4 linked regions of the Homo sapiens genome follow. The protein of the gene in region 1 interacts with the protein of each later gene in a pairwise test. Each region holds a gene or a part of one and is shown in the gene's direction. Other genes may lie near its edges.

What was found. Proteins that work in one complex are often made in the same cells at the same time.
Region 2: the proteins of HTR6 (region 1) and SYT5 interact in a two-hybrid assay, tested with the Homo sapiens proteins (one large-scale study listed by BioGRID and IntAct).
Region 3: the proteins of HTR6 (region 1) and PARP8 interact in a two-hybrid assay, tested with the Homo sapiens proteins (one large-scale study listed by BioGRID and IntAct).
Region 4: the proteins of HTR6 (region 1) and CMSS1 interact in a two-hybrid assay, tested with the Homo sapiens proteins (one large-scale study listed by BioGRID and IntAct).

Annotation. Positions count from the first base shown.
Region 1 is NC_000001.11:19,671,375-19,674,874, forward strand, and holds part of HTR6 (5-hydroxytryptamine receptor 6), read left to right. Parts: intron 1-3,500. UniProt on the Homo sapiens protein: G-protein coupled receptor for 5-hydroxytryptamine (serotonin), a biogenic hormone that functions as a neurotransmitter, a hormone and a mitogen. Also has a high affinity for tricyclic psychotropic drugs.
Region 2 is NC_000019.10:55,170,696-55,173,992, reverse strand, and holds the end of SYT5 (synaptotagmin-5), read left to right. Parts: intron 1-308; coding exon 309-509; 3' UTR 510-2,797; downstream 2,798-3,297. UniProt on the Homo sapiens protein: May be involved in Ca(2+)-dependent exocytosis of secretory vesicles through Ca(2+) and phospholipid binding to the C2 domain or may serve as Ca(2+) sensors in the process of vesicular trafficking and exocytosis.
Region 3 is NC_000005.10:50,792,137-50,795,636, forward strand, and holds part of PARP8 (protein mono-ADP-ribosyltransferase PARP8), read left to right. Parts: intron 1-2,070; coding exon 2,071-2,196; intron 2,197-2,716; coding exon 2,717-3,281; intron 3,282-3,500. UniProt on the Homo sapiens protein: Mono-ADP-ribosyltransferase that mediates mono-ADP-ribosylation of target proteins.
Region 4 is NC_000003.12:99,820,862-99,824,361, forward strand, and holds part of CMSS1 (protein CMSS1), read left to right. Parts: intron 1-2,882; exon of another isoform or gene 2,883-3,004; intron 3,005-3,500.

The DNA of each region.
Region 1 (3,500 bases):
TGACGTGTGCAAATTCTGCCTCTGTTCCTGCTTTCAAATCCACTCGGCTCCTTAAGTAAGCCTCCTGCAGGCCGTTTTCCTGATTGCCTGGTGAACGGCCTGCACTTTGGGAAAATGCATCTGAGAAATTGCATTGGCCCTCCTGGGTCACCGCCTCTTTCTTCCCACCAGAGCTGGCCTGGAGGTGGAGGCCCCCTCAATGTTTGGACCTAAAGGAAGTGATGAGAATGAATCAGATGTGGGTGTCTTGGACCCCTTCCCTTTTCCTGTGCCCAGCCCCACTTAGCCTTGGCTTCCTGCCCCATTCCACTCTCTAGCTTCCCTGCAGAGGGAAAGGAGCTGGGCATAGGTCTCGAGGCCCCAGTTCCTCTGGGGTCAGAACATGGGAGCTGGTCAGCCTTGAGCATTTCATCCCCTCTCCATATGTCTATTTATGGAAATGGGCTTTTAAAAGGCCACTGGTTGGCTTAGTGATTTCCACTAGGTCTTCCCACCACCTCAGGGCTGGGAGGAAGGGGTCCTGCTTAGCACTGTGGCTGGGAGTGTGGGCTGGGGATGGAGGAAGAGCCGTGGGGCAGAGTGAGGAGCTACCAGGGCAGGGGAGTGTGTGTGTTGGGAGCAGGGTGGAAGGTGGGGGCCTGGATGTGGGTGGCACTGAGCCATCCTTGGGAGATTGTGGAGGGTCCAGGGTGTTAGGGGCAGTTTCAGAGATGCAGCATGGGCCACTGGCTTGAGGGAGAGCCCAGCAGGAGAGGCCCAGCCTCCTCCTCTTCCTGGCAGGATTTCTGGGTCTCTGTGGTCCATAACCTCATCCCATCTCTACACCTCACCTTCCTCCCCACTCCCATCCATCCTTCTCTCCTTCAGTTCCCATGTCTTCCTTCTGTGTGCCCCGTCTTCCCCTCCCCCTTCTCCTGTCCCATCAATTTCTCCCGCTTTTCCTCCTCCCCCTCCTTTTTTCACCCTCTCTCACCCAACTAAGCGTCATTCTGTCTTAGTGATCCATCTTCCCTTCCATCTCTGTCTTTCCTCCTCCTCAGAGGAGGAGGCTGTGATCACAGAAATATCTGTGAGGGGGAGGAGGGGGCCGAGCCAGGGAGAGGCTGGCAGAGTGACACTGCCGAGCATGGCAGGCTTGGCTGCTGCTCAGAGCCAGGCAGCCTGGTGCAGCCAGGGCTGGAGCAGGAGCTTGGGGGTCTGGCTGGTTAGGGTTCAAGCCCTGCCTCTTTTGCCTCATAGCTGGACGATCTTGGGCAAGGCATTTTACCTCCTTATGCTCCAGGGGTCATGACATCTATCACACAAGTCTGTTTGAAGAGTCAATTAGATAATATACATAAAATACCAGGCACATAGTAAGTGCTCAACAAATTTCAGCTAGGCAGTGACTCACAACTGTAATCCCAACACTTTGGGAGGCCAAGGCAGGAGGATTCTTTGAAGCTAGGAGTTCGAGACCAGCCTGGGCAACATAGCGAGCTCCTGTCTCTAAAAATATATATAAAAAATTAGCCAGGCCTGGTGGCACATACCTTTAGTTACAGCTATTCGAAGAGGCTGAGGTGAGAGGATTGCTTGAGCCCAGGCAACAGAGCAAGACCCCATCTTTAAAACAACAACAATAGTTGTTCGTGCCTCTCTTTTCCTGTTGTTGGTAAAATATGTTTCTGGGGAGCTCACCACCTTGACCCTTTCTAGGGAAAAACATCACTGCTGTCACCAGCACCATCACCATCATTATCAAACAGCTGAGCCAGAGACTAATAATAATGACAACAATAGCTAACACTTCTATGGGACTTCCTATGTGCTGGCACTGTTCTAACTTTCAGTGTATTATTTTATTTTATCCTTATTATAATCCTATGAGGTAGATGCTATTTTAGTGCCATTTTACAGAACAGAAAGTGGAAGCATAGATGAAGTAACTTGCTTAAGGTCACTCCACTAGTTTGTAACAGAGCCAGGATTTGAAACCAGGCAGTCTGGCTCCAGAGTCTGTCTTGTAACTCTCACACTATGATCAGATGATGGTAACAAAATTTAATTGTGGGCTGGGCGTGGTGGCTCACGCCTGTAATCCCAGCACTTTGGGAGGCCGAGGTGGGTGGATCACCTGAGATCGGGAGTTTGAGACTAACATGGAGAAACCCCATCTCTACTAAGGTACAAAATTAGATGGGCATGGTGGTGCACACCTGTAGTCCCAGCTACTTGGGAGGCTGAGGCAGGAGAATCGCTTGAACCCGGGAGGCAGAGGTTGTGGTGAGCCGAGATCGCGCCATTGCACTCCAGCCTGGGCAACAAGAGCGAGACTTCGTCTCAAAAAATAAATAAATAAATAAATAAAATTAATTGCACAAAGGAATACATAAATACACTTTAAAAATTCAACAATAGGGATGAAGGAAAAGACCTCCAAATTCCAGCTAATCACCTTTCACTCCCAGGGACATGCATCAATTTAGGATATGTCCTTCTAGGTCTTTTTTTTTTTTTTTTTTTCTGTTAGGACAGAGTGTCACTCTGTCACCCAGGCTGGAGTGCAGTGGTACAACCACGGCTCACTGCAGCCTTGACCTCTTCTGACTCAGGTGATCCTCCCACGTCAACCTCCGGAGTAGCTGGGGCTACAGACGCACATCACCATGCCTGGCTAATTTTTGTATTTTTTGTAGAGATGGGGTTTCACCATGCTGCCCAGGCTGGTCTTGAACTCCTGGACTCAAGCAATCCACCTGCCTCGGCCTCCCAAAGTGCTGGGATTACAGGTGTGAGCCACTGCACCTAGCCCTTCCGGGTCATTTTCTATGTGCTTATGTATTTATACAGGTACTTAAAGAAACTTGGTGCTTTGTGTTGGATATTGTTTTTTAAACAAATAGGATCATGCTGTATCTATTACTTTGCAACCTGCTATTATAATTTAATAATCATGGAGATCTTTTCATTTGATTGATTCATTCTTTTAAAACATCTGTGTAGTATTCTGTAGTGGGAATTCACCGTGGTTTATTTAAGCCACTCTTCTCTTTTTTTTTTTTTTTTTTGAGACAAACTCTCACTCTGTCACCCAGGCTGGAGTGTGGTGGTGTGATCTCGGCTCACTGCAGCCTCCACCTCCTGGGTTCAAGTGATTCTCCTGCCTCAGCCTCCTGAGTAGTGGGACTACAGGCATGCACCACCACACCTGGCTAATTTTTTTATTTTTAGCAGAGACAGGGTTTTGCCATGTTGGCCAGGCTGGTCTCGAACTACTGACCTCAAGTGATCTGCCCACCTTGGCCTCCCAAAGGGCTGAGATTATAGGCGTGAGCCACTGTGCCCAGCCTAAACCACTCTTCTTTTGATGGACATTAAGGCTGTTTCCAATTTTTTCCTATCACAAGTAGTGCTGTGGGACACATTCTTGGATATGTGAAGCGTGCAGACATGAATGTAGGTGTTGGCTGGAAGCTGTATGTGTGATTGTTGGCTGGAAGGGCCCTGGATTGTCCTTC
Region 2 (3,297 bases), on another chromosome or scaffold:
TTCTGCAGCTTTGCGGCTCTTAGGAGGCTGCTCCCCCAGGAGGCGCCGAACACACCCGCTCCGCAACCGAGTCCTGAGGGTTCATTTCCTTAGAAACCTGGCTGCGCAGGAAGAAAGGCGCCAGAGCCTCCTCCTCGCCGCAGGCTCCGTCCCTCTCGTCTCCCACCCCCTCCCCCGTCCCGAGCTCCGGGGCCCCGAGCCCTCGGGTGGCAGCGAGAGGTACCCTCAGCCGTGAAAACGGACACCGCCCCTTCCGGGGCCTCCTCCCCTCACGCTCCTCTCTCCTCTTCCTCCCGCGCCCACCCCAGAAGGTGCAGGTGGAGCTGACCGTGCTGGACTACGACAAGCTGGGCAAGAACGAGGCCATCGGGAGGGTGGCCGTGGGGGCGGCCGCCGGCGGGGCTGGCCTGCGGCACTGGGCGGACATGCTGGCCAACCCGCGGCGGCCCATTGCCCAGTGGCACTCGCTGCGGCCCCCGGACCGAGTGAGGCTGCTGCCTGCGCCCTGACTCCCACCCCAAGCCCCCGGCCAAGCCTGGACTCTAGCCCCTGACCCCAGACTCCCGAGACCGGCCAAAGCCAAGCCAGCCCCACCCTTAAGCTTCCTCTGACGGTTACCCTCCCCCCACCTTCCACCCCAACCATCTGAACCATTCCTGTCTTCTCACCCCCAACGATGCCAATCACGACAACTTTCCAGCACACTCCCCCGACCCTCGCGGACACACCCAGATGCCCCAGGGACCCCGGGAAGGGAAGGCAGCCTGGTTTCTCCTGCCCCCGGGTCCTGCCCCCTGCTTTGACAATCAGCCATCCTCGTCTGCTCTCCTCTCTCTTCCAACACAGCCCATCCCTGCACTGCTCCTGGGGCCAAATAAATATTCAGCAGCTCCGGTGGCCTGGGCCCATGCTCCTTGATGGGGGTGGGCAAGGGCTGGGACCCAAGAGGAAACCTCGTTTCCAGGAATGGGCGCTCGCAGGGCGGTGTGAGTGCTGTTCGTCCTGAAAGCCTCTGAGAGACTGGCCTGACCCCATGGACTCCCTCACACTCTCACCCGTTCATTCCTCACTCACCACTCTGAGCCTGGGTTTCCTCCTCTGGAGAATGTTGGGATAATAATAATTCCTGCCACACGCTGGCTGTGAGGAGTCCGCGAGAACTCCCTTGCTTGTCCATGAATTTATCCACTCGCTTGCTCACCCATGACTCACATCGATTTTCATACCCATTTCTGCATCCCTCCCTCCCTCTCTTTTTTTTCTTCCTTCCATTCCATATTCCCTGAGGTCTTCTGTTGAGTGCTGGGGCCCCAGAATATCCAAACACAGACCTGACCCCCCAAGCGACTTACTGCCATCAAAACAAAGGAGAGGCGCGGAGCCAGGGAATACAATCTCCAGAGCCTGCGAGAGAGGTTGGAGTTCAGCAAGGAAAGCCAATGATTTCAACTTCACCTCTTTCTTTTTTCTTTTCTTTTTTCCTTTTTGTTTTCTTTCTGTCTTTCCTTTTCTTTCTTTTTCTCTTGTTTTTTTTTTGTTTGTTTGTTTTTTTGTTTTTGTTTTTGTTTTTTTGAGATGAAGTCTCACTTTGTCGCCCAGGCTGGAGTGCAGTGGCACGATTTCGGCTCACTGCAAGCTCCTCCTCCCGGGTTCACGCCATTCTCCTGCCTCAGCCTCCCGAGCAGCTGGGACTACAGGCGCCCGCCACCACACCCGGCTAATTTTTTTGTATTTTTAGTAGAGACGGCATTTCACCGTGTTAGCCAGGATGATCTCGATCTCCTGACCTCGTGATCCGCCCGCCTCGGCCTCCCAATGTGCTAGGATTACAGGCGTGAGCCACCGCGCCCGGCCCTTCTTCTTTTCTTTTCTTTTCTATTTCTTTTCTTCTCTTCTTCTTTTTTTTAATTTTGAGACGGAGTTTCGCTGTTGTTGCCCAGAATGGAGGGCAATGGTGCAATCTCGGCTCACCGCAACCCCTGCCTCCCGGGTTCAAGCGATTCTTCTGCCTCAGCCTCTTCTTTCTTCTTTTTTTGACAGGGTTTCTCTGTGTACCCTGGCTGGAGTGCGGTGGGGCAATCATAGCTCACTGCAGCCTCAACCTCCTGGGCTCAGGGGATCCTCCTGCCTCAGACTCCTGAGTAGCTGGGACCACAGGCACATGCAACCATGCCTAGCTAATTTTTTCTTTTCTTTTCTTTTCTTTTTTAGAGATGGGGTCTTGCTATGTTGCACAGGCTGGTTTCAAACTCCTGCAATCCTCCTGTGTGAGTAGCTGGGACTGTAGACATGAGCCGCCGCATCTGACCTCATTGTTCTTTCAACGAATGCTGCCTCCTACTCTGTTTCTAGCAAAGATGATAGTTCCATTGGCTTCTACCTTATCTCATCCCATACAGAATTTTGGGTGGTGAACAAAGACCTATAAGATTTGGCCAGAGAACTCTCTGAGCAGCAGATTAAGTGGAGAATGAGGCAAAAATTACCCCCACGTACCAAAAAAGGAGGCAGCAAACAAACTTACTTGCTCCTAAGCTTCCTGGTAGCCAATCGGGAAAGTGAAAATAGAACAGCTACACAGATTATAATATCCATGAGATTTTTAATTTTTCTCCAAAGGAATTCAGTAACTTTTCATGTGTGTGAGTGTGTGTGTGTGTGTGTGTGTGTGTGTGTGTGTGTGTGTGGCTGTAGAGCATGTCTTTATGAAGACAGCCCTTTATGTTACTACTATTACTGCCAATAATAATCCTCACAGCAAACTCATGAAATAAACATGATCATTATTCCCAGTTGACAAATGAGTCCAAACTGTGCTTTAGAAAATTTGGGGCTGGGCGTAGTGGCTCACGCCTGTAATCCCAGCACTTTGGGAGGCTGAGGTGGGCGGATCACCTATGGTCAGGAATTCAAGACCAGCTGGGCCAACATGCTGAAACCCTGTCTCTACTAAAAATACAAAAATTAACTGGGTGTCGTGGCAAGCACCTGTAATCCCAGCTACTAGGGAGGCTGAGGCAGGAGACTCGCTTGAACCCAGGAGGTGGAGGTTGCAGTGAGTCGAGATCGCGCCATTGCACTCCAGCCTGGACAACAAGAGCAAAACTCCATCTAAAAAAAGAGAGAGAGAGAGAGAGAGAGAATTCCTGTGAAATGCTCAGAATCACACAGCCAGAGAGCCTGTCTCTAAATCCTGGGATTGATTTAGATGATGGCAATGGGGTCCTTGGGTCTCTGTCTCAACAAGAAAGCAGAGCGATAGAAGAATAAAACCATTACAAATGGCCGTCCACACTG
Region 3 (3,500 bases), on another chromosome or scaffold:
TCTTTTTTTCCCTACCATCAGCCAATCACTGGCAATGGTAGTAGTTCCTTTTGGTGCCAGCACAATAGTAAACACAAACTCAAATGTAAATACTGAAGTCCCTTCATGGTTCTCTATTATAAGGAGGTGGTTGTTATACCAAATGTGTTCATATGTATACTCCAGATTACCCCTGAAATTAAACACAACATTGAATGTCTTTTAGAAAACAATTTCTTTTGCATCCAAGGACAACTAGGTACCTGGGTATTCAAGTTTAAGAATTACTGATTTTAGATGTTGAATCACACTTTGAATCCTAATGTAATATATAAGTGGGAAAATTTTTAGCCATTTTGACCTGTTTTTTTTTTTGTTCCTCTTAGCTTATCAAGATTAGGCAAGCACTTGCCGTCTTTCTTAAAGAATGGTGCACAGGAGTAGCAATTTTTTATGGGAAGAAAATCTGCTTAATACAAAGGGTTGTGTCAGTGGAAATTTCAAATTAGGTACAGGGAGAAATGATGATCTTATTATTACATTTAAATCCTGCTGAAATTTTGGGTAAAAAAAAATTCAAACATGAATAAAATGTTTCTCGTGCTGACTGAGCGAATTTACTGTGAATTTGGAATCATGGCATCACTTATTGAAGTTTTATTCCCCTTTTCTCACCACTTCCACTGCTAAAAGGGCCCCAAAATAATTGAGTATGTAACTGTTTATTCTTCTGAATTTATCAAAACTAGCAGAAAAAAGCCTAAGTGATATACTTTCTGGCGATCTGAGTTAGTTTGTTAAGACCTGAAGGATCCTGAGAACTTAGTAACTGGCGTTGTGCTAAGAGTCACATCTGTCCCTTTTGAATAGCATGTGTTATACATATCAAAACCCATATTTGATAATATACGTACTACTACTCTGTCACTTGTATCTATGCTAACTTGGGCAGATTTCGTTCTCTTATTTGTGAAATGTGTGGAATAACAGCTACTTGCTGCGGTACTCTGAAAATTAGAGGCAAAAATGTGCATATAACATTTCTGTTTTACTCTGTGACATATTGTAAGTGGGAAACAAATATTGGTATCATTTTCCTGATCCCAAAGCAATGTGTTAGAAATAACTGAAAAGAGCGTGAAAAACAGACAATCCTGAAGTTATTTTTGAAGAAAAAGAAACACATTTAATTTATTGCATGCTTGATGTTTAATTGTAAAATTTCATGTCTACTTAAGTATTAGTGTTGAGGGCCACTGCCATGTGGAAAATGGAGATACAGAGAAGCCATCCAAGCCAAAGACCTTTCCCAAATAAGAACACTGTGTCCAAGTCCACAGTTGGCATTCCAGAATTCTTTACCATAAAGCACTGATGGAGTGATTTTGACATAGAAAATATCGACATTAGGAGTTACCAACATTCTGCCTTATGATATTAACTAAACAAACTTAAGGATACCCAGTTTTTAAAATTTAGTATAGTATCTTCAAAGGTGAATAGGCTGTGTTGAAGATATAATTTGCTGACCACATATTTCTACGTAGAGCCAGTTCTGCGTGTTTTCTTTTTATGTATGATTTTATAGCTTTGCTTTCCTTTTCATGAAGAAGATATCGAAGCAAGTCAAGTAAAAAGAAAATGGCTTTACTTCTATCTTAATAAATAGCATTATAATTAGTAACAAAAATTTTCTTAAAAGTTGATTTTCTAGCACCAAAAAAAATTTAGATTTTTTTGCCACTTCAGCTCAAGTTGTTGATCCTGAAGGCCGTCTTTATAATTCTCTTTATATCTTTATTCTTCTATCATTTGAATTATCATATCCTGGTAATATTGTAATTTAATTATTTAAATAAATAGTAATCATTATCATTTACTGTGATATAACCAGTCACAGTAAAGCTCTGCTAATTTGCTATATGATGCTTTCCTACATATGAAAAATCTTGTATGATTCTAAATTAGCGTCTCACTGATTTCTATGTGTTTGCATTTATTTGATAAATGCATTTTCTACATAATAAATACAGTAACATTAATTGAAATTGCCTTGGAATGGTGATAACAGAATTACCTTTGGATTGACAGAATCATGCAGACATTTGTTACACAGCAGTGGAAACAGAGCAAAGAAAAATCCAATTGCCTGCACAATAAAAAGTTGTCAGAGAAGAAAGTGAAGTCTCCCCTGCATTTATTTTCTACTTTGCGCAGGTTGGTAACAGGCAACTTCGTCATTGTCTTACTGAATGCTGAGTGTGTGATGTAGTTCATGCTTACAGCATTCTTTCTATAGTGTTGGCATCTGTTTATTTTCTTTATAACCTCTAAGAAAAGACTGAGTTAGATGCATTCCATCAAAAACATATTCATTTCTATGTTTAGAGTTTTTATTAATATTTATTTAACATTGGTTACATTTGCTAAAATTACATTCTTTGCTTTCTAATCACCTAGAGTTTTTCCTACCAAAATTAGTTTCATTATAGGGCTTTGGGATAGATAGGAGGGAAAAAAAATCTTAGAACCTTTTTTTTGCTTTTCAGGAAAAATGGGATTCAAGTCCTGTGATCATTCTGCACATACCTTTGATTTCAGTTTTGACTGGGTAGGCTATATTAAAATGAGGTGGTAGAATATTTATTAGCACAGTCGAGTTTGAGCATGACAAGCTTTCTTCATGGTCTGATGTACCTGTGATTTGCCCTGTAGTAATTGTTGTTCAATTTTGAAGGTCGCCAAGTTATCCTCCCCCTGGTTGTGGCAAAAGCAAATCCAAACTGAAATCTGAGCAGGACGGAATCTCCAAAACGCATAAGCTGCTGCGGAGGACTTGTTCCAGCACAGTCAAGACTGATGATGTGTGTGTCACAAAGTCACACAGGACCTTTGGCCGCTCCTTGTCCAGCGATCCCAGGGCGGAGCAGGCTATGACAGCAATTAAATCGCACAAACTTTTGAACCGTCCTTGCCCTGCAGCTGTTAAGTCAGAGGAATGCCTAACTCTAAAGTCGCATAGACTATTGACTCGATCTTGTTCTGGAGATCCACGATGTGAGCACAACACAAACTTGAAGCCCCATAAACTGTTAAGCAGGTCTTACTCTAGTAATCTCAGAATGGAAGAATTATATGGACTGAAAAATCACAAATTGCTCAGCAAGTCCTACTCCAGTGCCCCCAAGTCATCCAAAACTGAGCTTTTCAAGGAACCTAACGCAGAGGGCAGGAGGCTCTCTCTTACCTCAGGGCTTATTGGTATCCTAACACCATCTTCATCTTCATCTTCTCAGCTTGCTGTGCGTAAATATTTTCATCTTGAGTTCTTAAATGTTAGCTAAGGTGCAGTAGAATTTTTTTTTTCTTATAAGATCTGGTGGAGAAAAGAAGCAAAACTTTGTTTTAATTTACTGTTTTTTTAAAATCTTTTTGGATATTGTTTTGCATCCCATACATTTGCAACTGGCAATGAAATGTAAGCTTTGGTTCTGAAAAAAAATAAATGTAGCTATTCATTT
Region 4 (3,500 bases), on another chromosome or scaffold:
ATATGTTAAATCAGAGAAAGGAAAGATAGTTGTATTGGTGCTTTTATTCCTGTTGTGGATTATGCTACCTGCCTATAAAAATAAACATTTTTGCTATAATCTGTTCCCACTTGACATCCATGGTAGCAAGGCAGTGGAAGATTTCAGTCACTTACAAATACTTGTTGGTTGTACATGGTTTATAACATCTATCTAATGTGCCTATCTGTTTGTTGTCTGTCTAAGGAACTGTACTATTTTTTGGCTGTTATCATGTCTTCTTAGATGTGGTATGTAACAAAGTTTTCATGGCTCTTTAAAACCTGTCATTTTTGTGCTAGAGTTCTACATTGCACTGGAGCTCAACATGGGACCTGGCACTTAATTGGTGTTTGGTGGATGTTGGCAGAATAAATATATGTGTGTATGCGTGTTACCTGCTACAGAGTATGTAGGCAGACATATAATTTCTCATCCAATCTAGACACTTTTGTGAGTGGAAGGCTATGCAATTAGAATTTTGCAGGGACTCTCCTGGTCCTTAAGGGATGTCTAGTCACTCCATTGGTGGCAATTGGAGTCATGGCCCAACATAAGACAGCTGGGAGTTACAGTGCTGAGTGTGCAGCCCAGGATGCCTTAGGCATAAGACCCCAGGAATCATCTAATGGCATCTAATATTTGATTTATTTCCTTATTCCCTGTAAACCTTCAGCAACTGTTTGAAGTGACTTATAGTAAGTAATACATTCAGTAGAATAATGATGTGAAAATATTAATGCTGAAATGAGCAAACACAATGCCTGAGATTTTAATGTAGTTGACCGGTCTGGGTACTTTCTCAGTGTGAAGCTGAAAACTGAGAGAATGTCAATCACAGCATGGATTTCGTGACTTAAGGAAGAGAGCCAAGGGATTCTGCAGTTGAAAATGTCACTTGAGGGCCTGTAATCCCAGCACTTTGGGAGGCCAAGGTGGGCAGATCACCTGAGTCCAGGAGTTTGAGACCAGCCTGGCCAACATGGAGAAAACCTGTCTCTACTAAAAAGACAAAAATTAGCCAGGTGTGGTAGCAGGCACTTGTAGTCCCAGCTACTCAGGAGGCTGAGGCAGGAGTATTGCTTGAACCCAGGAGGTGGAGCTTGCGACGAGCCAAGATCGCACCACTGCACTCCAGCCTGTGCTACAGACTGAGACTCTGTCTCAAAAAAAAGAAAAAAGAAAATGTTACTTGATCATTTACTCACTGAAGATGAAGAGAATACTAATTGCTTTCCCTTTTTATTTCAATGACATACCTATTAAATTACCAAGTCGAGTACCCAGTAGGCAGCTAAGTATGTGAGTCTGGAGCCCCAGGGCCAGATCCAGGCTGAGATACAGATTTAGGAATAACTGGCATACAGATAGGTTATTTTTAAAGAGCATGTTCTTAGCAGTCTGTAACATTGAGCCTCCATGTCTTTTAAGGAGGGTCTTTCATATGCCTCCCCAACTCATTCTGAATCTTTGATGACATCTCTTCCCAAGCACCTAACTAGAAAACTGAAGTGTTAAGACACTGCTATGTACAGTGCCAGGAGACTGCAGGTAATAATACCAGCTTGCGGCCAGGCGCAGTGGCTCACGCCTGTAGTCCCTACACTTTGGGAGGCTGAGGCAGGTGGATCACCTGAGGTCAGGAGTTTGAGAACAGCCTGGCCAATGTGATGAAACCCTGTCTCTACTAAAACTACAAAAAATTAGCTGGGCGTGGTGGCACGCACCTGTAATCCCAGCTACTCAGGAGACTGAGGCAGGAGAATTGCTTGAACCCAGGAGGCGGGGGTTGCAGTGAGCCGAGGTCGTGCCACTGCACTCCAGCCTGGGCAATAAGAACAAAACTCCATCTCAAAATAATAATGATAATAATAATAATAGTAATAATACCAGCTTGCATTTGTTGAGCACTTAACTACCTGCCAGATGCTGTTTTGATTGCTTTACATGTTCTAGTTAATTTAATCTTCCCAAGTACACCAGCGGTAGTTACTGTTGTTATCTTTATTTTACTGATGAGGAAGTTGAGACACTGAGAAATTAAGTGATTTACTTAATACTATTTAATTTAATTCACCCAATACTATCTATTTAATTGGTAAATAGGGGAGCTGTGATTCATATGCAGGCAGTCTGAAACCAGAGCCTGTGTGCTTATATTTCGCATTCTCATTATCAGTGGTAAGAATCTCATCTCTAAAGGAATAATCTGTTATCGGCTTAAAGAGACTCATAATTTAGAAAGTCTTTTGTTTATATATCATTATGAAATTGTGTCTATTAGTTTTCCAAAGTTTACTCTTTTAAAGAACACTGGTTACTTGGAGCTACAAATAAGCAGCTTTTCCATTTGGGCTTTGAGAACCATTTCTGCCAGTAACTCAAACCTGATCCTGGAGCTCAAAGCTTAACATATGTGGCTGCCTTCTTTAAATCTTTACTTAGTTATTTAATAGGGATGTCAAATGTAAACAAGACCCAGCTACTGAATTATTCTCCAAACCTGCTTTTTCTCCAAACTTTCCTGTCTCCATAAATTAAACCACCAACTACCCAATTTCACAAAGGCCTAGCAGTATTCTGATTTATTTATTTTTTTCACCCCTATATCTCATCCATCAAGTCCTGTTGTCACTACCTCGAAAACATATCCTGATTCTTTCTTTGCATTTTTCTTCGCTCTGCCTCCATTGGAGTATACATTTTCATCCTTACTGCCATAAGCTTCTAACAGGGCTCAGAGTTTCCACCTTGTCCCTCACTCACCAGCTAGAGGCCTTTTGAAAAGAAGTCAGGCCACTTTCCTGCTTAAATCTTCCAATAGCTTTTTCCCTGGCACATAGAATGAAATTCAGATTACTTACCATGGCTGGTGGCCACCAGGTCTTCTACTATTTACTCCCCTATAGTTTATGCTGCCCCACCCACACCAGCCTTCATTCTGTTCCTCAGTAGGCCACACTCATTCTGTCTTACTTAGCCGTTTGTGTTAGCTGTTCTTTTCCTTTCTGTCCTGTCCTTCTGATTGGCTGGCTTTCTTTCTTTCTTTTTTTTTTTTTTTGAGCTGGAGTCTCGCCCTGTCACCCAGGCTAGAGTGCAGTGGTGCGATCTCAGCTCACTGCATCCTCCACCTCCTGAGTTCAAATGATTCTCCTGTCTCAGCCTTCTGAGTAGCTGGGATTACAGGCGCCTGCCACCACACCCAGCTAACTTTTGTATATTTAGCAGAGACGGGATTTCACCATGTTGACCAGGCTGATCTCGAACTCCTGAGCTCTTGATCCGCCCGCCTCAGCCTCCCAAAACACTGGGATTACAGGCATGAGCCACCAGGCCCGGCCAGCTGGCTCTGTCTTAACATTAAGTACTCAGTTCAAACGTCACCTACTCAGAGTGGCGCTTCCTGATCAGGCAGTCTAGAGTAACTATCTAGGTGCTCTATTACATTATCACAATATCTATTAAATTATTATGTTATTATA